Linked DNA regions of Homo sapiens. The protein of the gene in region 6 interacts with the protein of the main gene of each other region in a biochemical or structural test. Each region holds a gene or a part of one and is shown on either strand. Other genes may lie near its edges. The genes, in order: TPM4, KLHL26, HDAC6, HIF1A, NAP1L1, ISG15 and BRAP.

What was found.
Region 1: the proteins of ISG15 (region 6) and TPM4 form a complex in vitro, tested with the Homo sapiens proteins (one large-scale study listed by BioGRID).
Region 2: the proteins of ISG15 (region 6) and KLHL26 form a complex in vitro, tested with the Homo sapiens proteins (one large-scale study listed by BioGRID).
Region 3: the proteins of ISG15 (region 6) and HDAC6 form a complex in vitro, tested with the Homo sapiens proteins (3 studies listed by BioGRID).
Region 4: the proteins of ISG15 (region 6) and HIF1A form a complex in vitro, tested with the Homo sapiens proteins (one study listed by BioGRID).
Region 5: the proteins of ISG15 (region 6) and NAP1L1 form a complex in vitro, tested with the Homo sapiens proteins (one large-scale study listed by BioGRID).
Region 7: the proteins of ISG15 (region 6) and BRAP form a complex in vitro, tested with the Homo sapiens proteins (one large-scale study listed by BioGRID).

Annotation. Positions count from the first base shown.
Region 1 is NC_000019.10:16,089,995-16,093,494, forward strand, and holds part of TPM4 (tropomyosin alpha-4 chain), read left to right. Parts: intron 1-3,500. UniProt on the Homo sapiens protein: Binds to actin filaments in muscle and non-muscle cells. Plays a central role, in association with the troponin complex, in the calcium dependent regulation of vertebrate striated muscle contraction.
Region 2 is NC_000019.10:18,668,028-18,672,221, forward strand, and holds the end of KLHL26 (kelch-like protein 26), read left to right. Parts: coding exon 1-1,218; coding exon of another isoform or gene 1,219-1,247; 3' UTR 1,248-3,694; downstream 3,695-4,194. UniProt on the Homo sapiens protein: May play a role in endo(sarco)plasmic reticulum (ER/SR) mitochondrial signaling. May be part of the ubiquitin-proteasome system (UPS) and affect ubiquitination and degradation of target substrates in cardiomyocytes.
Region 3 is NC_000023.11:48,812,067-48,815,566, reverse strand, and holds part of HDAC6 (protein deacetylase HDAC6), read right to left. Parts: intron 1,128-3,500; coding exon 1,001-1,127; intron 893-1,000; coding exon 827-892; exon of another isoform or gene 734-826; coding exon 674-733; intron 606-673; coding exon 516-605; intron 184-515; coding exon 77-183; intron 1-76.
Region 4 is NC_000014.9:61,744,013-61,747,512, forward strand, and holds part of HIF1A (hypoxia-inducible factor 1-alpha), read left to right. Parts: intron 1-692; coding exon 693-801; intron 802-1,678; coding exon 1,679-1,805; intron 1,806-2,921; coding exon 2,922-3,073; 3' UTR 3,074-3,500.
Region 5 is NC_000012.12:76,074,686-76,078,185, forward strand, and holds part of NAP1L1 (nucleosome assembly protein 1-like 1), read right to left. Parts: intron 1-3,500. UniProt on the Homo sapiens protein: Histone chaperone that plays a role in the nuclear import of H2A-H2B and nucleosome assembly.
Region 6 is NC_000001.11:1,012,010-1,015,040, forward strand, and holds ISG15 (ubiquitin-like protein ISG15), read left to right. Parts: upstream 1-1,487; 5' UTR 1,488-1,564; coding exon 1,565-1,567; intron 1,568-1,974; coding exon 1,975-2,469; 3' UTR 2,470-2,531; downstream 2,532-3,031.
Region 7 is NC_000012.12:111,641,646-111,644,801, reverse strand, and holds the end of BRAP (BRCA1-associated protein), read left to right. Parts: intron 1-239; coding exon 240-603; 3' UTR 604-2,656; downstream 2,657-3,156. UniProt on the Homo sapiens protein: Negatively regulates MAP kinase activation by limiting the formation of Raf/MEK complexes probably by inactivation of the KSR1 scaffold protein.

The DNA.
Region 1 (3,500 bases), on a different chromosome or scaffold from region 6:
AATTTTTATAATTTTTGGTAGAGATGAGGTTTCACCACATTGGCCAGGCTGGTCTCGAACTCCTGATCTCAAGTGATCTGCCCGCCTCGCCCTCCCAAAGTGCTGGGATTACAGGCATGACCCACTGCACCTGGCCTAGAGATGAGATCTTGCTCTGTTGCTTAGGCTGGAAGTGTAGTGGCGTGATCATAGCTCACTGCAGGCCCCAAACTCCTGGGCTTAAATAATCCTATCACCTCAGCTTCCTGAGTAGCTAGGACTTGCAGGCATGTGCCACTACTCCAAAACTGTATTTTTTTTTTTTTTTTTATAGAGCACAGTCTATGTTGCCTAGGCTGGTCTTAAACTCCTGGCCTCAAGTGATCCTCCCACCTTAGCCTCCCAAAGTGCTGGGATTACAGGCGTGGGCCACCGTGCCTGGCTAATTTTTCTAGTTTTTGGTAGAGACAAGGTTTCATCATGTTGGCCAGGCTGGTCTTGAACTCCTGGCCTCAAGTGATCCTCCCACCTTGGCCTCCCAAAGTGCTGGGATTACTTTGGGAGGCCGCCGAGCCTGGCCTCCTGTTCATCCTTTGAGCTTCTGCTTAAACATCACTTCTGAGAGTCCTTCTCTGATTTCTCATCTAGGTTAGGTATTTCTCTGCTGTGTAGCCCTGTCTATACTTTTGCTGGCATTATGATTTCTTACATTTATTATAGTTACTCCATTAATTGCATGCCTTCCTTGCTAGATTGTAAGTTGTAAGGACAGGAACCATGTCATCTTGTTCAGAGTTGTGTCCCTAGTACTAGCATTGTGCCTGGCATATATCTGTAGTGTGTGTGTGTAATTTTTTTTTTTTTTTTTTTTTTAGTAGAGATGGTGTTTCACCATGTTGCCCAGGCTGATCTCAAACTCCTGGCCTCGAGTGATCCACCTGCCTCTGTCTCCCATATGTGCCAGCCCTGGCATATATCTGATACTAGGATGTGTAAGGAATGAATCCAGTTGGTGTGTGTATGCCAGACACTGCCCCGGGCCAGGGGGATAGATGTAACACCACTAATACCTCAGCTGCTTTGTTTTGTTTTGTTTTGAGATGGAGCCTTGCTCTGTCGCCCAGGCTGGAGTGCAGAGGCACGATCTCAGCTCACTGCAACCTCCACCTCCTAGGCTCAAGCAATTCTCCTGCCTCAGCCTCCTGAGTAACTGGGAATACAGGCGCACACACCACGCCCAGCTAATTTTTGTATTTTTAGTAGAGACGGAGTTTCACCATGTTGGCCAGGCTCGTCTCAAACTCCTGACCTCAAGTGATCCACCCACCTCGGCCTCCCAAAGGGCTGGGATTACAGGTGTGAGCCACTGTGCCCAGCCTGGCATCTGCTCTTGAAGAGCTCAGAGTCGAGTCTAGTGGAAGGGATTGACAAAGTCACAGAGTGCTTTGGGAATACAATAGAGGGACCTTGGTAGGTTGTGAACGGTGTCACCAAGGAGGCGACATTTAAAACAGCTGTAGGTCCAGCACGGTGGCTCATGCCTGTAATTCCAGCACTTTAGGAAGCCGAGGCGGGAGGATCGCTTGAGCTCAGAAGTTCGAGACCAGCCTGGGCAACATGGAGAGATCCCGTCTCTACCAAAAATACAAAAACTAGCTGGGCATGGTGGTGCATGCTTGTGATCCTAGCTACTTGGGAGGCTGAGGTGAGAGGATCACTTGAGCCTGGAGGGCGGAGGTTGCATTGAGCCAAGATTGCCCCACTGCACTCCAGAGTCAGGCTTCAGTCATGACTTGATCACTTAATAGCCATGTGACCCTAGGCAAAATAATAACTTCACCTTTCTGTGACCCTTTCCTCCCCTATAAAATGGGATTACAGATACCAGGCTGTGATGCCATTAACTATGTCTGGCCCATGGTAAGCAGCTAATAAGTGTTAGTTATTATTGGGAGGCCGAGGCAGGCGGATCACCTGAGGTCAGGAGTTCGAGAGCAGCCTGGCTGGCCATCGTAGCGAAACCCCATCTCTGCTAAAAATAACAAAAATTAGCTGGGCATGGTGGTGGGCGCCTGTAGGCCCAGCTACTTGGGAGGCTGAGTCAGGGGAATTGCTTCAGCCTGGGAGGCAGAAGTTGCAAGTCACAGTGAGCCGAGATCGTACCACTGCACTCCAGCCTGGGTGACAGAGCAAGATTCTGTCTGAAAAAAAAAAAAAAGAAAAGAAAAGTATAATTTCTGATGGGTCATCATGGGGAGGGGAACATTCCATGCTAAGGGGTGCATTCATGGACAGGGACTGGGACTCAGGAGTCCACAGATTATGATCAGGGAGTGCCTGTCACCCTGGGGAAGGTGGTGGAGAATGGGGTTGGAAATACAGAGGGGGCCTTGAGTAACAGATTCCCAGTTATCTCCCTTTCTTCGCCATACTTTTTATCTCAAGTTCTCAGTTTAGGCCTTCTGATCAATACCATCCTACAGGACTCTCCCCAACATCCTCCACATTTCACACATATTTCTTCTGCTGGGGAAAGGTGCCTGCCTCTACTCTGCCTACTTTTTTTTTTTTTTCTTTTTGAGATGGAGTCTCACTCCATCGCCCCAGGCTGGAGTGCGGTGGCGCCATCTGGCCTCACTACAGCCTCCACCTCCTGGGTTTAAGCAATTCTCATGCCTTAGCCTCCTGAGTAGCTGAGATTACAGGCACCCACCACCACACCTGGCTAATTTTTGTATTTTTAGTAAAGACAGCGTTTCGCCATGTTGGCCAGGCTGGTCTCGAACTCCTGACCTCAAGCGATCCACCCGCCTTGGCCTCCCAGAGTACTGGGATTACAGGCGTGAGCCACCGTGCCTGGCCTGCTTACTTCTTTTTATGCTTCTTCCTCCTTTTTTTTGAGATGGGGTCCTGCCCTGTTGCCCAGGCTAGAGTGTAGTGGTCCAATCAGAGCTCTCTGCAGCCTTGAATTCCAGGGTTCAAGCCATCTTCCCTCCTCAGCGTCCCCATTAGCTGGGACTACAGGTGCTCACCACCATGACTGGCTAATTTTTAAATTCTTTGTAGAGACGGGGTCTCACTATGTGACCCAGGTTGGTCTCAAATTCCTGGGCTCAAGTAATTCTCCCACCATGGTCCCCCAAAACACTGGAATCACAGGTGAGAGCCACCACACCCAGCCCTCCTTTTCTTTCTTTCTGTTTTTTTTTTGTTTTTGTTGTTGTTGTTGTTTGTTTTTTTGAGATGGAGTCTTACTCTGTCACCCAGGCTGGAGTGCAGTGGCGTGATCTCGGCTCACTGCAACCTCCACCTCCCAGGTTCGAGTGAGTCTTCTGCCTCATCCTCCCCAGTAGCTGGGACTACAGCTGCATGCCACCAAGCCTGGCTAATTTTTGTATTTTTAGTAGAGACGGGGTTTCACCATGTTGGCCAGGCTGGTCTCGAACTCCTGACCTTGTGATCCACCAGCCTCAGGCTCCCAAAGTGCCAGGATTCCAGGCATGAGCCACCATGCCTGGCTG
Region 2 (4,194 bases), on a different chromosome or scaffold from region 6:
TTCTTCCTGCAGAGCAACCGGCTGCAGAGCTGTGCCGAGATCGACCTGTTCCGCGCGGCCGTCCGCTGGCTGCAGCATGACCCGGCCCGGCGGCCGCGCGCCAGCCACGTGCTCTGCCACATTCGCTTCCCGCTCATGCAGTCGTCCGAGCTGGTGGACAGCGTGCAGACGCTGGACATCATGGTGGAGGACGTGCTGTGCCGCCAGTATCTGCTGGAGGCCTTCAACTACCAGGTGCTGCCCTTCCGGCAGCACGAGATGCAGTCTCCGCGCACCGCCGTGCGCTCGGATGTGCCCTCGCTCGTCACCTTCGGCGGCACGCCCTACACCGACAGCGACCGCTCGGTCAGCAGCAAGGTCTACCAGCTGCCTGAGCCGGGAGCCCGCCACTTCCGCGAGCTCACGGAGATGGAGGTAGGCTGCAGCCACACGTGCGTGGCCGTGCTGGACAATTTTGTGTACGTGGCCGGGGGGCAGCACCTGCAGTACCGCAGCGGCGAGGGCGCAGTGGACGCCTGCTACCGCTACGACCCCCACCTGAATCGCTGGCTGCGCCTGCAGGCCATGCAGGAAAGCCGCATCCAGTTCCAGCTGAACGTGCTGTGCGGCATGGTGTACGCCACGGGCGGCCGCAACCGAGCCGGCAGCCTGGCCTCCGTGGAGCGGTACTGCCCCCGGCGCAATGAGTGGGGCTACGCCTGCTCGCTGAAGCGCCGTACCTGGGGCCATGCTGGGGCCGCCTCAGGGGGCCGCCTCTACATCTCGGGTGGCTACGGGATCTCAGTGGAGGACAAGAAGGCCCTGCACTGCTACGACCCCGTGGCCGACCAGTGGGAGTTCAAGGCGCCCATGAGCGAACCCCGCGTGCTACACGCCATGGTGGGTGCCGGCGGCCGCATCTATGCCCTCGGGGGCCGCATGGACCACGTGGACCGCTGCTTCGACGTGCTGGCTGTGGAGTACTATGTGCCGGAGACGGACCAGTGGACCAGCGTGAGCCCCATGCGGGCCGGCCAGTCAGAGGCCGGCTGCTGCCTGCTGGAGAGGAAGATCTACATCGTCGGGGGCTACAACTGGCGTCTCAACAACGTCACGGGCATCGTACAGGTGTACAACACGGACACCGACGAGTGGGAGCGGGACCTGCACTTCCCGGAGTCCTTCGCAGGCATAGCCTGCGCCCCCGTCCTGCTGCCCCGGGCCGGGACCAGGAGGTAGCCCCCAAGACCCCCGGGACCCTGGCCTGACCGCATGTTGTCTCCAAGTGGGGCTTGGCGAATGCACGTCTGCCTGAGAACCCCAGTGCCCCCCTTCGCCCGGGCTGCCCTTGAGGGGCCTGCTGCGTTGATAAGCCCCCCTCCCAGGGGTCCCTCCCTCCCTCCTTCCCAAAGCAGATCCTGGCTGCGAGTCCATCCGAGGGAGCCTGCCGGCAAAGCGTCTGACATGTGGTGGCAGCAAATTCGTCCCCGGGGTGGTTTCCTCGCCTGGCCCCCGAGTCCCCACGGGCTGGCGGGTGGAATCCCAGGTCTCCAGGGGGTCCCTGTGCAGCTCCATCTCACTTCTCTACTGCCTCCCAGCCCCACGGTTTCAGGCATTCAGATGTGAGCTCATCAACATTGAACCCAAAGTCGGTGGTATATGACTCACCCTCCTTCCAAGTCTCCTGCGCGCGTGTTTTTAAAATAAACTCACCCGAAACGTCCGTAACACACGGACCTCCAGGAGCAGTGAGAGGTGGCTTAGAAGCCCCTGGTTTGGGGTGGGTGGAGGAGGAGGGCACGTGTCTGCCTCCCCTGGGGTGCCCTCCTTCCCCCATCCCAAGCTGCTGAGGGGAGGCCCTGGTCATGCCTCAGTTCCTGCCTTCATCTGCTTTCCGGAGGAAAAACCATATCAACTCCTAGAAACGCTCCTTAGGGGCTTGGGACCTTCCATTTGGCACTGAGCATCTTGTGGGGCCTTAACTGGCTGAGACATCCCGGCCCTCTACATTTGCCCTGTTGGCCAGGCAGTCCCCTTCCCGCAATTGGAGGGCGACGCTAACTTCAGAATCCCATAGTGGCGCTTGCCGCAGGTCTGGTGGGGTGTCTTTTTTCTCCTCCCTCCTTTCCACCCCTCCGCGCCCTGCCACTCCCTGGCCTGCCCTGTTTTTGGGTCAACATTGCTACGGAGCCAGCAGTGAGGCCTTTCCCTTCAAGGGCTCTGTGGTATCTCTGGCCACATTTGTTCTAATGTCTGAACCTCTAAATCTTTTCTTTTTGATTGGTTTTACTGTTTTTAAGAAGCCAGCACTGCTGTCTCATAGATGGGATTTGTACTCTTGGGGCAACTTAAAGTGTCTCTCTCGCTGCTAACAGACGATTGATGTCTTGTCTCTGTGACCCACTCACCATGTAAAGAATTAACCTCCTATCTTAGCAGACATCGTCTCCTAATATTTCCCTTTATTTAATAAAAATGTTATGGTGAAGAGATGGAGCCGGCCCAGCACTGAGCTTGTGCGGCTTGGGTCTGATTGGTCACAGATTCCTCGTGTGTCCTCCGCGTGTCTGGGGGCTCCTCTCCCCCGCCTCAACCTTTTCCAGCCTTTCAGAGGAGTCGGCAGTGGGCTGGGCTTTGGCTCAGGGGCGCAGAGGCAGCAGGAAGCGTGGCCAGGACTTTCACCCTGGCGTTTTTTGTTGTTGGTTTTTTTGTTTTTTTGAGACGGAGCCTCGCTCTGTCACCCAGGCTGGAGTGCAGTGGCGTGATCTCGGCTCACTGCAACCTCTGCCTCCTGGGTTCAAGCAATTCACCTGCCTCAGCCTCCCAAGTAGCCAGGATTACAGACGCAGACACACACCACCACACCCGGCTAATTTTTGTATTTTTAGTACAGACGGGGTTTCACCATGTTGGCCAGGCTGGCCTTGAACTCTTGACCTCAGGTGATCCACCTGCCTCTGCCTCCCAAAGTGCTGGGATTACAGGTGTGAGCCACCATGCCCGGACCAACCTTGGCACTTTGGAAGAGCCTTCAGCCCCCTATTCTCATCATGGCCGGCCAAACTATGAACTGGGCTGCCCAGAGCAGGCCACTTATCAGTTGCAGGTTAGCAGAGAAAGCCTGATGTTCCCGGACGGCCTTCCCAGAAGGGAGGCCCTGGGATATCACACACACATGGATCTCCATAAGTTGCTGTGCCTGCATGCCTGGCGCTCCTGTGTGGCAGCCATCGGGGCTGGGGTAACACTAGAGGCTGAGGGGGTGGGCAGTGCTAAAATAGGAACATGGTTGGGAACCTAAAAGAAGCCCACACTGTCAGGGGCATCGAGACAAAAGCCGAGTTCCCTGGGGACTTACCAGAACATTCCAGCCCCACCCCCGACCTGAGCTCCCCCAAAGAGAACCCTTCCCCACTGGAGGCATGGCCCCTTCAGGGGAGCAGTGAGAAGCTTTGCCAGCTGCAAGTCCCCTGGATCAGCTCACACCTCAGAACATCTTGTCCCCAGTGAGCTGGCAGGGGCGCCGGCCCAGGGCGGGGGGCGCTGCTGTATCTAACCGGATCGATTGTGCATAACCGTCTAGGCCGGTTCGTGGAATGTTCGTGGGGCCCCCTGCCCCTCCCTCAGCCTCCCCCCGCATCCCCCCAAGAAAGGAAAATTATTTTTCGTATTGTAAACTTTAAACATGAAAAAGCTGTTTTTAATTTAGCAGAAACTGGCTTGAATCTTCACTTTGTGAACGTTTGTGTCCTTCAGAGGCAGAATATGCCTGCGCACACTCGCACATGCTCATGCACACACCTGCACACGCATGCCGCAACACGCACATTCACATGGCCGTGCTCGTGCACGCCTGCACACGCATGCTTGCCCATACCCACGCATTGCAGCGCGTTCACACGCTCACCCGCACACAGTGAAACACAAGCTCACACATATGCACACACACACATATCTGTGCATGCACCCCTGGACCAGCGTAGCCCAATCTGCCTGGCGGCCCAAAGGGGTCTGGAGCCCGGCACCGCCCCGAGCCTGGGGGAAGCCTGTCTACTTCCAGATGCCCTGCCTACTCGCTGAGGCCTGGACGCCGGCTGCAGGAGCCTCCCTTGCACCTGGGCTCAGGCTGTGGGAAAACGCTGTCTCTCGGGACGGTCAGATGCAGGCCCGCAAGAGGGAGGCCAAGTGCGACTTCTGGGGCCTCTCAGCAAGTGA
Region 3 (3,500 bases), on a different chromosome or scaffold from region 6:
CAGGGAGAAAATATGATGTCAAGGAATGTGGGCGGGCAGTGAGGCTCCCGCTTTCCCCTCCTCCACCGGGGCTCACCTCCGGCAGGGGGCACCAGGTGACTCCAGCATGGGGCAAGGGTCTCCCAGAAGGGTGTGGAGCGAAGCACTGACGCCTTCAGCCAGGGCGCGGAGGTTGTAGCCACCCTGGGGCAAGGAGTTGTGAAGGGGGATCAGGAAAGGACCAGACATGACCAGGGAATAATAATAATGATGATAATAAGAGAGTGCATACCACATGTCAAGCAACAAGGAACTTAGAAGGGTGCCTCACTGAATTCACTGGACAATGATATGAGGTGATTACATTATGCTCGTTTTATAGAAGGAAAGCGGAGGCACAAAGAAGTGAAGTGACTTATGCAAGGTTGTCCAGCTAGTAAGTGAATTCCTGGGCCAGGAACTCCTGTTGGACTTGAAAGCTTCGTTCTTAAGCCCTCCAGGATCCACAGGCTGAGGGACGAAGGTGAGTCACTCACCTCCAGAGACAGGATCAGCTTGCCTCCTGCCAGACCCATGAGCAGGTGGGTTAGCTGGGCGAACCCTGCCGGAGTGGCGGCCATCTCACCCTGGGGGGACATGGAGGGTCAGCCTGGCTCCATGCAACCCACCTGCCGCCCCAGGGAGCCTGCCTTACCTTGGGGTCCCCTTGCAGGGCATCAAATCCAGCAGCCACCAGGACCAGCTGAGGCTGGAACTGAAGGGGGAACAGACTCCATGAGGCTACCTACCCTCACAGCCTAACCTTCAAGGCCACTCCTCCTCCCAACACACCCCAGATCCCCAGGACCTCGAGGGCGACTGGCAGCAGGACGTGCAGGAAAGCAGCAATGTAGTCAGCATCCCGCATCCCCACCTGCAGACACAGGAGTGTGATGGGGGATGTTCAGCCACCTGTCCCGAGCCGCTGACAGAAGGGCGGGGCTGGGCCTCACTTTGGGGGCAGAGGTGGGTAGATGCTGACCTGGTTCCAAGGCACATTGATGGTATATCCTTGGCCTTGGCCGAAACCTGTGGTGGACCAGTTAGAGGCCTTCAGGTGGGGCCAGAACCTACCCTGCTCGTAGCGGTGGATGGAGAAATAGAGGACACTGGGGGCAGAAGAAAAAGAGGTAAGAGAGTTGGAGAAGTCAATCCCCATAGACACCCCCAACCCAACAGTTGCCAGTTTCCTCTACCACTCATTTCCCCATTCAACCACTCGTTCATTCTCTCATTCATTAATTTCCCCATTAATTATTTAATCCATGAATCCATTCTTCCATTAATTTACCCTTACATTCAGTCACCAATTTAATCATCTTACCATTTTTTCATTCTTATCTTTATTTATCCATTACCTCACTCGCTCATTCATTTAGTCTCTCACCAGAACCTCTCCCTCAGCAAACATCGCTGCCCCCTCAGTGCCCACCCAATTTCAGGCTCAGCTCTAGGGTCTATCTCAGATCATGGGGGCTCCTGACTCTGTGGGGTACTCTAGATCATGTCCGCCCACTACCTGCCCCTATGACAAAGGTAGTAGTAACAGCAGGTCAAACCCTGTGACACTGGAGGCCCAAATGGAGCATGGGGCTCTTAGCTGCGGGGAGCCAGCTAAGGCTGAAAAGAGCCTCAAGCCAGGCTGGGGAGCTGGGTGATTCTCTAGCAGGAAGTGGAGAGACCTGGGGGGTAGGGGTGAGACTTGCTTCTGTGGGTGGAACTAGAGCGGGGGTGCTGGCTGGGGCTGTCATGAGGCCAGTGAAAGGGCAGTTCCTCCTCCCCAATGCCTTACAGGCCACCTCTACTACTTCTTCTATTTTATAGGCGAGAGAATGAGCACTCAGAGGGGTGAGTATGACCGACACGCAAAACAGATACTGAAAAGATGCGATGCACGTGTTTTGACAGAAAGCCCAGCAAGGGGCCATGGGAGGGCTTAATTCTGACTGGGGAAAGCAAAATGAATAATCTATCATCCATCCATCCTTCTATCTGGTCATTTACCCCCTGCTTTGTTCCAGAGAGGATCTAAGGCAGCTTTTTTAGGGAAATGCAAGAAATAGTGGTATGCATTGAATCTAGACAAACTTAAGAGTCACATTTTAATGGGTTGATAATGTAGTTGTGAAATTTAATGCAAGTGATATAGAAAGATTCTTAAAATTGAGGGAAAAGAGCTTGGAATTGGGGAATAAAAACAAGCAAAAGCTCTGGTGTTGAGTAGGTGGAGGATGATTGTTTTATTTTTGACATTGATAGATAAATCTTGGTTCTAAACTTTTAGTAAGTTAATCATTAGAGGAAGAGAAACACAGTAGGACATAAAAATTATCACCAGAGGGCTGGGCGCAGTGGTTCACACCTGTAATCCCAGCACTTTGGGAGGCCAAGGTGGGCGGATCACTAGAGGCCAGAAGTTCGAGACCAGCATGGCCAACATGGCGAAACCCTGTCTCTACTAAAAATACAAAAAATTTGCTGGGCGTGGTGGCGCGTGCCTGTAATCCTAGCTACTTGGGAGGTGGAGGTAGGAGAATTGCTTGAACCCAGGAGGCGGAGGTTGCAGTGAGCCGAGATCGGGCCACTGCACTCCAGCCTGGGCGACAGAGCATGACTCTGTCTCAAAAAAAAAGAAAGGAAAAGAAAAAAATATCATTGGGGAAGACAGGAAGAAAGAAAAGATCTGAAGAAAGCTGACTCTAAAAGAGAGCCATCAAAGTCAATAAACAGCAGAACTAGCACTCAAGCTAAGTTTAAAAAGAAAACAGAAGGGAAATTCAAAATAAGTTCAACCACCTTCAAGTTAAATGGTGGATTGATAGCACAGGTTTACTTCCTCAACCTCCTACTACCCCATTCAAAATACAGTAAAGAAATTGTAAACAAACAGCAACCCAGAAAGAGAGAGTGGAAAGGATGTCAGAGAATAAGAGACTTCAATGAATTTCTAGAAAGTAGACTTTGAGATTCCAGGGGCCCCAGGGTGCTCTGTCTCATGCTGAGCAGGATAAGGGGGCACCCAAGATAAGCTGAAGTTTCCTTTCTGGAGAAATCCAGTACAGATCCAGGTCAATGCACACAAAATCCCTTCTGAAGAGCCAACTCACTGAATCACCAATACAACAAAGTTACTTGTTTCTTTTAACTACTTAGTTTTAGATCATCTGCTTTCCTTGTCTTCACAACAGTATTTTAAGGATTATCCAGTTTGTCTCCCTGCTGCTGGAGTTCAGAGACTGAGAGATGGGGAGCTGGGAGATCCAAGGGCATGGACATGTTCTTTTTGTTTGTTTGTTTACACACGTTTGTTAATAAGGAAGAATGCACTGAATATATTCACAGTGTTTCACATCTGTGTGTGTAATCAATAGTGTACCCATGAAAGAACACACAGCTATAGCCTCCTATGCATTTATTCAAACAAAAAGAATGATTAATGATATTAAAGAATTCTTTGAATGACAGACCCTTGGCAGATTAAA
Region 4 (3,500 bases), on a different chromosome or scaffold from region 6:
AATGAACTAATGAACTTGAAATGTTTTATAAACTGAAAATGCTATACGAATGTGAGATTGATCTTGTATTTCAATAGTCCCAACAATATCACTGCATTGTTATATTAGGTGGAATAAAAGGACAATATTTAACTGTTTTGACTCTACAATAGTGTCAATTTAGTTGTGTTCAGCTCTATTTTATAAAATAGGGATACGCATACTGTAGAAAATTTCCTGTTAAATTAAGCTTTGACGGCCAGGTGCTCACGCCTGTAATCCCAGCACTTTGGGAGGCCAAGGTGGGCAGATCACTTGCGCTCAGGAGTTTGAGACCAGCCTGAGCAACATAGTGAAATCCTGTCTCTACAAAAATATGTATATATAAATTAGTCATAATCCCAGCTACTTGAGAGGCTGAGGTGGGAGGATCACTTGATTCCAGAGGCAGGGCTTGGTTGCAGTAAGCAGAGATCACGTCTCTGCACTCCAGCCTGGCTGACAGAGTAAGACCGTGTTTCACCAAAAAAAAAAAAAAAAAATTAAGCTTTTACTTTTAAGATGATAAACTTTAGTGATCAGGAAAGTTATCTTATGTATATTATATTCCTTAATATTGGAGAACTAAAGAATTATGTATTTTCTTTAAAAGCGCTCACTGGATATTTTTTTTAAAAACGCTATATTTTCATTTAGAATTTTTTTCTTTTCAGAACTACAGTTCCTGAGGAAGAACTAAATCCAAAGATACTAGCTTTGCAGAATGCTCAGAGAAAGCGAAAAATGGAACATGATGGTTCACTTTTTCAAGCAGTAGGAATTGTAAGTATGAGTAGTAGGTTTTGCTTTTCTAGCTAATGTGCTATTTCGTGTGTGTGTGTGTGTGTGTGTGTGTGTGTGTGTTTCCACGTTTCTTCCAAATAGTAAAGTTATATTTTCAGAAGTTATACATTGGGTTTTTTTACTCTGTATGCACTGGTTTTTAAAAATACAAATGTTTAATACATACATTCTTGGTATAAAAATTCCAAACAATTCCAGTGTATTTTGAGTTAAAAAGTGAAGTTCTCCCCTTACTCCACCCTGAATATCACCACCAATCTCATTCTCTTCCCTTTAAGTTACTTTGCCTTATTAAAAGAACTGCTATTGGCCAGGCACAGTGCCTCACGCCTGTAATCCCAGCACTTTGGGAGGCCAAGATGAGGATCACTTGAGGTCAGGAGTTCGAGACCAGCCTGGCCAACTTGGTGAAACCCTGTCTCTACTAAAAATACAAAAATTAGCCAGGCGTGTTGGTGCACAACTATAATCCCAGCCACTCTGGAGGCTGAGGCAGGAGAATAGCTTGAACCCGGGAGGTGGAGGTTGCGATGAGCTGAGATCAGGCCACTGCACTCCAGCCTGGGTAAGAGAGTGAGAGTCCATCTCATATTTAAAAAAGAACTGCTATGTTTTGGGGTAAGTCAATGGTGGTATAATACATTCTGATATTTTCAAACTAAATTAACTGGAAAGTATTTATAGACAGAATGGTCATAATGGATGACAAATAACTTAAGAAAGAATTCAAAATAATTTAGGGTAGTATTTAAGAAACTGCCTATAATGTTATTAAATTTACACCAATTTCAAGGTTTTTGGTTGTTTAAAAAAAAAATTCAACAAACTAAACTTGAAATAACTTTACTGTTTATAGGGAACATTATTACAGCAGCCAGACGATCATGCAGCTACTACATCACTTTCTTGGAAACGTGTAAAAGGATGCAAATCTAGTGAACAGAATGGAATGGAGCAAAAGACAATTATTTTAATACCCTCTGGTTAGTTTATTCTTTTTGACCTTGAACATCACAAAGACAAAATACATGAAACATTTTTATTTAGGAGCTTTAATCTAAGTGAGAATGACTTTGGTTCCTTAGCAAGATTAAAAAGTAAAGTTGTGGCTGGGCGCGGTGGCTCACACCTGTAATCCCAGCACTTTGGGAGGCCGAGGCAGCCAGATCATCTGAGGTCAGGAGTTGGAGACCAGCCTGGCCACCATGGTGAAACCCCGTCTCTACTAAAAATACAAAAATTAGCTGGGCGTGGTGGCGGGCGCCTGTAATCCCAGCTACTTGGGAGGCTGAGGCATGAGAATTGCTTGAACCCGGAAGGCAGAGGTTGCAGTGAGCCAAGATGGCACCACTGCACTCCAGCCTGGGCGACAAGGGTGAGACTCTGCCTCAAAAAAAAAAAAAAAAAAAAGTACAGTTGTATTTCATGTGATGGTCTTAATACAGAGATTAACATTTCAAGGTGGAGCTTTTCATTTTTAGTAATTTTCTTTGATTTCTCTATGTCCATGTGCTGTCAATATTGATAGAAGCTGAAATTTGTGAACTTTTATGACTTCTTTTTTTTTTTTTTTTTTTTTTGAGACAGGGTCTCGCTCTGTTGCCCAGGCCTGGAGTGCAGTGGCATGATCATAGCTCACTGCAGTCTCAAACTCCTGTGCTCAAGCTCAAGCAATCATCCTACCTCAGCCTCCTGAGTAGCTCGCACTACAGACATGCCTCACCACACCCGGTTGCTTTTTGTAGAGATGGGGTCTCACTATGTTGCCTAGGCTGGTTTCAAACTCCTGGCCTCAAGTGATCCTCCTGCCTCAGCCTGTGCTAGGATTACAGGCATCAGCTTTGATGCCCACCATATTTATGCCTTTTTCCAAATTGTTATTTCTTTGTGCCTTTATTGTATCCTGTAAACATTTCTGACACAGCAACAGTATCACTGGATTATACTTACTTTTTAACATAGTTGTGGTTTTGCCAGGTAAACTAAAAACCCTTCCAGAATTTTGCTTTATTTTCTATGATACCTAACACATTGTGGGTGTTTAATAAATATTCATTGACTAGATGAATGTATACTTAGGTATCTCTTTTGTTTTTCAGATTTAGCATGTAGACTGCTGGGGCAATCAATGGATGAAAGTGGATTACCACAGCTGACCAGTTATGATTGTGAAGTTAATGCTCCTATACAAGGCAGCAGAAACCTACTGCAGGGTGAAGAATTACTCAGAGCTTTGGATCAAGTTAACTGAGCTTTTTCTTAATTTCATTCCTTTTTTTGGACACTGGTGGCTCATTACCTAAAGCAGTCTATTTATATTTTCTACATCTAATTTTAGAAGCCTGGCTACAATACTGCACAAACTTGGTTAGTTCAATTTTGATCCCCTTTCTACTTAATTTACATTAATGCTCTTTTTTAGTATGTTCTTTAATGCTGGATCACAGACAGCTCATTTTCTCAGTTTTTTGGTATTTAAACCATTGCATTGCAGTAGCATCATTTTAAAAAATGCACCTTTTTATTTATTTATTTTTGGCTAGGGAGTTTATCCCTTTTTCGAATTATTTTTAAGAAGATGCCAATATAATTTTTGTAAGAAGGCAGTAACCTTTCATCATGATCATAGGCAGTTGAAAAATTTTTACACCTTTTTTTTCACATTTTACATAAATAAT
Region 5 (3,500 bases), on a different chromosome or scaffold from region 6:
TTTATGTAATTCATGTTTAAGAAAACCAAAATCTGATGCCTACTGTACTCACTATGCCCTCTGGATATCTTTTTAAAAGACTTAATCCCTGGATCAAATAGCCATTTAGACTATTTCAAAAGCTCTAGGTCCCAATCTTAATGTTAGGTAAGCCTTCCCTATCTCTCCAAATGTACATGTACCTCATGTTAGATAACTGACAACCACCAACCTCCAGCTTCCCCTAGATATGCTAGGGACATTGTCAAGACTTGTGGTTACCAGACCTGAGTAAGTTTACTGTTAAGACTCACCAGAGGATATCCTAAGTTCCTTCTCACTAAAAGATTAGTATGAACCTGGAGAATACTGCTTTTGGAAAAACAAATCTTAAAGCAGATGTGTTATATCCAGGCAGAAAAAAATGGTAGAATGCCACAGGTAATCTACAGATTACCAAAAAAAACTAAACCAAGTTTAGATAGAATCCATGTTAAAATCAAGTTTATCTTAGCCAGGCACAGTGGCACGAGCCTGTAATCCCAGCTGCCCAAGAGCCTGTAATCCCAGCTGCCCAAGAGACAGGAAGATCTTTTGAGCACAGGAGTTCAAGGCCTGCCTGGGAAATACAGCAAGACCCTGTCTCTAAAAAAATTATGAATAAATAGAATCAAGTTATCTGGTAAAAATTAAAATCTTAATACATATTTAATTCACAAAATCCTGCATGTGTTTACTTTCATAGCAACGTATTATGCCTATGAACAAAGAGTTAAAAATGGAAAACATCCTGATTTTAGCAGTTAAGTGCTAATATTTGGGGGAAACATTATTACTGACCTAGTATCTATCCTTTAGAGTAATTATAAAGAAAATTATTCTTCCTAATGTATCTAACTCTGTAAATATTTTGTATTTGTTATAAATAATTCCTAATAGTACTGATGAATTTTTCTAGTGATGCTGGGTAATGAGTCAGCATTTACAAAGTGTTTAGCAATTATGAATATTAATCAAAAATAAGAAAAATACTGAACTCTGACATCAAAGAAATCCAAGTAGGATTCCAGTTTGTCTACCACATCATCAATAACTTCTTTTTAATACAGGGAAACCTGTAGTGCACATGCATCCTTATTTCCAGCTAGTGTTCCCGTATCTTTTCTGGAGAGCAACCTGACAATAGGAATATCAAAAGCCTTAAACATGTCCATCTCAGCCAGGCACCATGGCTCACACCTGCAATCCCAGCACTTTGGGAGGCCGAAGCAGAAGGACCGCTTGAGGCCAGGAGTTCAAGACAAGCCTTGGCAACACAATGAGACACTGTCTCTTAAAAACATAAAAATTAAAAAAACAAAATATGTCCATCTCCAGATTTATTCACTTATGAGCTCTACCATGAAAAAATTATAAAGAATCTAATGCCTTTGCTTTCCATGTTCACCTAGAAGGTTCTTCCACAGCTCTGAACAAGTCCTGCACATCCTTTGGCTCTCATTTCAAAGTTTCACTCCCCAGAGATGCTTTCTCCAACCTGCACATTCCGGTTAAGTAAGATTTCTTGGTTGTACACACACTCCTATAAAGCTTTCTTTTCTTTCCACCATAAGATGTCTCAGTCTGTAATTATAAATTAGTTTGACCTATGGTCTGTCTCTCCCAACTGACAAAATTCATGATTACAGGAATTAAATCTGATCTTGACAATCATAGCGTTGTCTTCTTTGGGGTAGCACACAAAGCTTATTATAAACTTAGTACTATAATGGAATATGCAAAAATGGAATGCTTTGCAGTCACAAATGAAACAGATCTGAGTTGATATGAAGGAACACTAAAGCAAGGTATAGGATGTATGCCGAAATCCCCTTTGGATATGGAAATATATATATATATATATATATATATATATATATATATATATATCTCCACTCATATACGCACATACTTTAATACAAATAAACCCTTTCTGAAAACAAACACCAAAAACCTAACCAGAGTAACCTAATGAGAAAGAAGGGACTGGGGGTAATGAGAACTAATTTCCCATTCACCATTACAGTCATGTGTGGATTATATGTTCTGAGAAATGTGTCTCTGGGTGATTGTATTGTTGTTCAAACATCAGAGTATACTTACACAAACCTAGATGGTATAGCCTACTACGCACCTAGGCTATGATATAGACTATTGCTCCCAGGCTACACACCTATACAGCATGTGACTGTATTGAATACCATAGGCAACTTTAATATAATGGCTAAGTATTTATGTGGTGCATGACTGCATTTGGTTTTCCAACACACAGATTTATATAATAATTTCCAATACACAAATTTATTCTGAGATTTGCTAGGTTTAATATATAGTGTCTACTAAACCCAGCAATTGTCAAAAACAGAAACAAAACCTAAAACTTCCAAATTTAAATTTTTGTAACATTTTAATGTGTTCACAGAATGGCTACACTGCTAACCTCAATGTCCATTTGCAGCATTACATTTACAGTTTAAATTCTTAAAATGAAACTTTAGTAAAGAGGATCCAAGACAGAACATTTACAGAACATTAACAGGAGGCATTTACTCCTCCAGAGAAGGCTGCTCTAACCTGCCCATTCTGGCTACATTGTATTTCTTGGTTGTAAGATAGACCTAATTTTCTAGTCAGTTGTAGTCAGATCATTTGGGCTGACATCAACTTTGTAGCAATCTACAAACTAAGACAAACAACTTCTGGCTCTATTTCATCATCTATATAAAGCAGAAAAACATCTGAGGAAGTGGGACCCAAAAATCTGCATTCTAAACAAGAAACTCAGCTTCTGAGAGGTGGTTCTCAGGTAGACCACATTGAGAAACACAAGTTTAGGTTAATACCTGTATTAATATTTTACTGCAGTTGACATTAAATAAAATCAGTGAGAATCTTATTTGTTATACATTAAATTGCATTCCAAGATCTCTGTGAAAAACTTTCATTCCTGAAAGCGACAAACTAGATTATGCAGATCAATTCTACCAATGAAAAATATGGCCGGACGCAGTGGCTCACGCCTGTAATCCTAGCACTTTGAAAGTCCAAGGCAGGCGAATTGCCTGAGCTTAGGAGTTAGAGACCAGCCTGGGCAAAATGGTGAAACCCAGTCTCTACTAAAATACAAAAAATTAGCCGGGCGTGGTTGCACACACCTGTAGTCCCAGCTACTCAGGAGGCTGAGGCAGGAGAATTGCTTGAACCCAGAGGAGGAGGCTGCAGTGAGCCGAGATCACACCGCTGCACTCCAGCTTGGGTAAGAGCAAGACCCTGTCTCAAAAAAAAAAAAAAAAAAAAAGGAAAAGAATTAAAAGTACAGATGTTTTTTAACAAAAACATTTTGTTAAAAATCTTAAAAGCACTGAAATGCTAACAAGATAGTAAGGAATCACCAGCCCAAAACTGAGGGCAAAACAGGAGCAGAAGGAAGGCACTTTTGCACTGAGGTCAACTGCCAATTATCAGCAACGTGAACTTTGGTT
Region 6 (3,031 bases):
ATGCATGTACCAGGATTCCAGTTCCTCTATGTATTCCCCAGTGCTTGTTACTGCCTTTATGTTTATTTTATATTATTTTTTGAGACTGTCTTGCTCTGCTGCCCAGGCTGGAGTGCATTGGTGCAATCTTGGCTCACCACAATCTCTGCCTCCTGGGTTCAAGGGATTCTCCCGCCTCAGCCTCCCAAGTAGCTGGGATTACAGGCGTGCACCACCACGCCCAGCTAATTTTTGTATTTTTAGTAGAGATGGGGTTTCTACTAAAAATGTTGGCCAGGCTGGTCTCAAACTCCTGACCTTAGGTGATCCGCCCGCCTCAGCCTCCCAAAGTGTTGGGATTGCAGGCGTGAGCCACCGCACCCGGCCTGGCCTTTATTTTTATTATTACAGTCATACCAGCAGGAAATAGCATCTCACTGGGGTTTTGATTTGCATTTCCCCAATTAATAATGATGTTGAACATCACTTTACAGCCGTTTCTATGTCATTGGAGAAATGTCTATTGAAGTCTTTTGGCCATTTGAAAATTGAGTTGCCTTTTTTTTTTATTTTTATTTTTTATTGAGTTGTAAGAGTTCTCTATATGTCCTGGATGCTATGCCCTCATCAGATAGATAATTTGCAAATATTTCTTCCCATTCTATGGATTGTCTTTTCACTTTCTCAATAGTGTCCCAGAGTTCATTTTTGTAGAAAATAAAAGATAGGTCTCTTTTATTAAAAAACAATCTGAGGCTCCGGGTGCAGTGGCTCACGCCTGTAATCCCAGCAGTTTCAGAGGCCGAGGCAGGTGGATCACTTGAGCCCAGGAGTTCGAGATCAGCCTGGGCGACATGGCGAGACCCCCATCTCTACTAAAAATACAAAAAATTAGCCGGGCCTGGTGGTGCACCCCTGTGGTCCCAGCTACGTGGGAGGCTGAGGTGAGAGGATCGCTTTAGCCTGGCAGGCGGAGGTTGCAATGAGATGAGATCGTGCCTCTGCACTCCAGCCTGGGCGACAGAGTGAGAGACCCTGTCTCAAAAACACAAAAACAACAACAAAAAAACACCAATCTGAGCAAATACTGCCCTAAACCGAGTGTTGTTATCTCTGGGTAGTTTGGAGTTCTTGTTTCTCAATTAACCATGGGGATGTTTTCCAAGTTTACTAATTTTGCAAGTTGGTAAATGGAAAATGAAACCATTAGTCCATGTGATGACAGCTTTAGTGCATCCTGTGAAGGATCTGGAATGCGCGATATTTAGGTGTTTCCAGGGTGTTGGGTGGGGGTGGGGATGCCGTCCGCTGTCCGGAGTCCCCGCCACTTTTGCTTTTCCCTGTCTTTCGGTCATTCGGTTTTGTTTCTTCCGCTCACTCTGGGGCATGCCTCGGGAAAGGGAAACCGAAACTGAAGCCAAATTTGGCCACCAGCGCAGGCTCGGCGGCACGCCCCCTGACGTGTGTGCCTCAGGCTTATAATAGGGCCGGTGCTGCCTGCCGAAGCCGGCGGCTGAGAGGCAGCGAACTCATCTTTGCCAGTACAGGAGCTTGTGCCGTGGCCCACAGCCCACAGCCCACAGCCATGGTAAGGCAGATGTCACAGGTGGGGGGAGGTGGGCTCTGTGCCAGCCAATTTTCGTCTCCCTCCCCCAGCCAAGGTCTCCCAGGGGTGCAGGGAGAGCGGAGCTGCTCAGAGCTTGGCCAGGTTCTAAGTGTGCTCCTGAAAGCAGGTCACCCCTGAGATCCTCAGGGTGGGGCACAGAGGGGCACCCTAGCAGGTAAAGGGAGGCCACGGGATGGCGGTGGGCAGCTGGCCTTCTAGTAACGAGCCCTCAGTGCCTTCTGTGCCTGGGGTCCCTGCCGGCGGGATGTAGAGGACAGACAGGAGGGAGCACTGTCCCTGGGTACAGGAGCTCGCCCTGCAGCCAGTGCCTTGTGTGTGGTGGGCCTGGGGCTGGCGCCGCAGTCTCTGAACCTGTGTGACGCCTGCAGGGCTGGGACCTGACGGTGAAGATGCTGGCGGGCAACGAATTCCAGGTGTCCCTGAGCAGCTCCATGTCGGTGTCAGAGCTGAAGGCGCAGATCACCCAGAAGATCGGCGTGCACGCCTTCCAGCAGCGTCTGGCTGTCCACCCGAGCGGTGTGGCGCTGCAGGACAGGGTCCCCCTTGCCAGCCAGGGCCTGGGCCCCGGCAGCACGGTCCTGCTGGTGGTGGACAAATGCGACGAACCTCTGAGCATCCTGGTGAGGAATAACAAGGGCCGCAGCAGCACCTACGAGGTACGGCTGACGCAGACCGTGGCCCACCTGAAGCAGCAAGTGAGCGGGCTGGAGGGTGTGCAGGACGACCTGTTCTGGCTGACCTTCGAGGGGAAGCCCCTGGAGGACCAGCTCCCGCTGGGGGAGTACGGCCTCAAGCCCCTGAGCACCGTGTTCATGAATCTGCGCCTGCGGGGAGGCGGCACAGAGCCTGGCGGGCGGAGCTAAGGGCCTCCACCAGCATCCGAGCAGGATCAAGGGCCGGAAATAAAGGCTGTTGTAAAGAGAAATGGCCGCCTCTGTGTCTGTGCTTGCCCCTCCTCCAGCGTCCGCCTCAGACCCCTGGTGATGGGGCGGGAGAAGTCAGGAGGGAGAACCCAGGGTCCATCCTGGTGACCAGGCCTGGGCTGCCAAGTGAAGGGATAAGGGTTTGCAGTTACAGCTTCGAGGGATCAAAATAGGGAGCCCCCCACCCCGAAACTGAAGTAAGACAGCTCTCCCCACCCTTTGGGAAATTAACTTCTAGGAAAAGAAAAAGAGACACAGTTGCTGGAGCCCATCCTGCCTGTCCTCCATCTGGGACAGCAGACGGCTTAGGCAGGGACCCGCCTGATCAGATCAAAAGGGGAGGCTCCCAGTGGGCCCCTGGGAGCAGTAAGGGGTGAGTCCTTGGGGCCTGCCCGGTGGGCTGTGAGGCAGGCTCTCCATAGGAACTGGGGGCTGGGGACCTCAGCCGTCCCTAGCCCAGCCTACACAGCCTGCTCCACCTGCCTGGGCTGGGCTAGGGAGG
Region 7 (3,156 bases), on a different chromosome or scaffold from region 6:
CTGGGCAACAAGAGCGAAACTCCGTCTCAAAAAAAAATACACTTGTGTTAAGTAGAGCAAAATTCTTGCTTTGCATAGCTGATTGCGATGGCAGAAAACCATTCTCCCTCACGATGGGAGAAAGGGGTCTGTCCTAAAGGGATTCTGAGGTCATGGTTTCTCTGTTCAATCCCAGAGCAGAAAGGGGACTGTGTCAGCAAATGAAAAATGTGCTTTTGTCTTCCTTTGTTTTTCAAAAGGTGCACTCAGCTAAACACAAAAGTGGCCAAACTCACCAACGAGCTCAAAGAGGAGCAGGAAATGAACAAGTGTTTGCGAGCCAACCAAGTCCTCCTGCAGAACAAGCTAAAAGAGGAGGAGAGGGTGCTGAAGGAGACCTGTGACCAAAAAGATCTGCAGATCACCGAGATCCAGGAGCAGCTGCGTGACGTCATGTTCTACCTGGAGACACAGCAGAAGATCAACCATCTGCCTGCCGAGACCCGGCAGGAAATCCAGGAGGGACAGATCAACATCGCCATGGCCTCGGCCTCGAGCCCTGCCTCTTCGGGGGGCAGTGGGAAGTTGCCCTCCAGGAAGGGCCGCAGCAAGAGGGGCAAGTGACCTTCAGAGCAACAGACATCCCTGAGACTGTTCTCCCTGACACTGTGAGAGTGTGCTGGGACCTTCAGCTAAATGTGAGGGTGGGCCCTAATAAGTACAAGTGAGGATCAAGCCACAGTTGTTTGGCTCTTTCATTTGCTAGTGTGTGATGTAGTGAATGTAAAGGGTGCTGACTGGAGAGCTGATAGAAAGGCGCTGCGTTCGAAAAGGTCTTAAGAGTTCACTAACCTCACATTCTAATGACCATTTTGCCTTCCTGCTTGGTAGAAGCCCCAACTCTGCTGTGCATTTTTCCATTGTATTTATGGAGTTGGCGTATTTGACATTCAGTTCTGGGGTAGGTTTAAGATGTTAAGTTATTTCTTGTAACCTCAAAGGTAAGGTTATCTAGCACTAAAGCACCAAACCTCTCTGAGGGCATAACAGCTGCTTTAAAGAGAGGTTTCCATTGGCTATTAAGGAGTTATGAAAACTCCCTAGCAATAGTGTCATATCATTATCATCTCCCCCTTCCTCTGGGGAGTGGAAGAATTGCTTGAATGTTATCTGAAAAGAGGCCTGGTAGTAAACCAGGCCCTGGCTCTTTACCAGCAGTCATCTCTTCTTGCTCTGGGGCCAGCCAGGAAAAACAAACAACCCGGGGCACATTGGGTAGACTCAGTGTAGGAAAAATGGTGGCAGCTCCACTGTTTATTTTTGGTGACTTCGTACATCATTATGAACCGCAATTAAGGAGGAGGCTTAATGGCTGTTCCCAAACTCAAATCTCAGAGTGGGTATCCTAGCATCTAGCAAGACTGAGTGGGGAGATTTCTCATCCGTGTGAAAATGTAGAGTGAGGCCTCTGACTAGCTAATTGTGTATTTTGTTGGGTTTAGTATTTTCTAAATGTTTACAAAATATTGGGCTGCATGTTCAGGTTGCAGCTAGAGGGAGCTTGGGCAGATTTTCAATTACGCTTTCAAGATATAACCAAAAGCTGTTTCTAAATCCTAAAATTAGAATTTCAACAGAGCCCCCTTTAGAACAGTCATATAACGCTTGTGTGGGCCAACAGAGGGGCTGTGTACTCTCTCTGGAACCATAAATGTCAAATAATTTATAACCTGCAGTAATTGAGCAAACTTAAAATAAGACCTGTGTTGGAATTTAGTTTCTTGAAGAGGTAGAGGGATAGGTTAGTAAGATGTATTGTTAAACAACAGGTTTTAGTTTTTGCTTTATAATTAGCCACAGGTTTTCAAATGATCACATTTCAGAATAGGTTTTTAGCCTGTAATTAGGCCTCATCCCCTTTGACCTAAATGTCTTACATGTTACTTGTTAGCACATCAACTGTATCACTAATCACCATCTGTTTTTGTGGGATGTGCTGCAGCATTTCCCAAAAAACTTTACGTGTAATGTTGCAAAATGAATGTACTCAGACATTCTTAATTTTTACTTAGGGCAGACCAACTCTTTGAGTCTCTCTTGGACTTATATATACAGATATCTTAAGAGTGGGAATGTAAAGCATAACCTAATTCTCTTTCCTATAGAGATTCTATTTTATTTAAAATCTATTTTTACACTAGTTAGAATCCTGCTGTTTTGGCCAAGTACTTGTCTTGCATGTCTGACCTTGCAGAAGCTGGGGTGGATCATAGCATACTAATGAAGAGAATTAGAAGTAGTTTACAAAGCTCGCTCACTCCTCATTTCTCTGTGATCCCTTCTATCCAGTGGCCCCACCACCACCTGGGAAAACAGATTTTTCAGTACAGGTGGGATAAATGCTCTGAAAGGCTGTGCCCAGAGGAATGAGCAAATAGGCAAGTGTTTCCAAACTACTTGGAGGTTTACAAAAAATATGTCCCAGAAAAAAAAAAAATCTTACCAAGATACGTAAAGAAAAAAAAATTTTTTTTTAAACAGTCAAAGAGTCATGTTTGAATTTCACAAAATCACATCAGACAGAAGTTGTTTTCTTCAGGAGGGAAATGAACCACTTAATATACCCATACTACCTTGAACAATGAAATTGAATTAAAATAGCCAAACTTTGAAATTATTCTGCCCCGTGTGAAATGTGTGTCTCTGACTGACATTTGCTTGGGAGCATGTCTCTAATAATCTAAGAAAGTGTCGGCTGGGCACAGTGGCTCAGCGCCTGTAATCCCAGCACTTTGGGAGGCTGAGACGGGCGGATCATGAGGTCAGGAGATCGAGACCATCCTGGCTAACATGGTGAAACTCCGTCCCCACTAAAAATACAAAAAAAAAAATTAGCTGGGCATGGTGGCAGGCACCTGTAGTTCCAGCTACTTGGGAGGCTGAGGCAGGAGAATGGCATGAACCCGGGAGGCAGAGCTTGCAGTGAGCCGAGATTGCACCACTGCACTTCAGCCTGGGTGACAGAGCGAGACTCCATCTCAAAAAAAAAAAAAAAAAAAAAAAGTGGCCTTGATTTAAAAAGCAACGTAAAAATCAGCCCCTTGGTTGGGTGCGGTGGCTCACATCTGTAATCCCACCACTTTGGGAGGCTGAGGTGGGAGGAATGCTTGAGGTCAG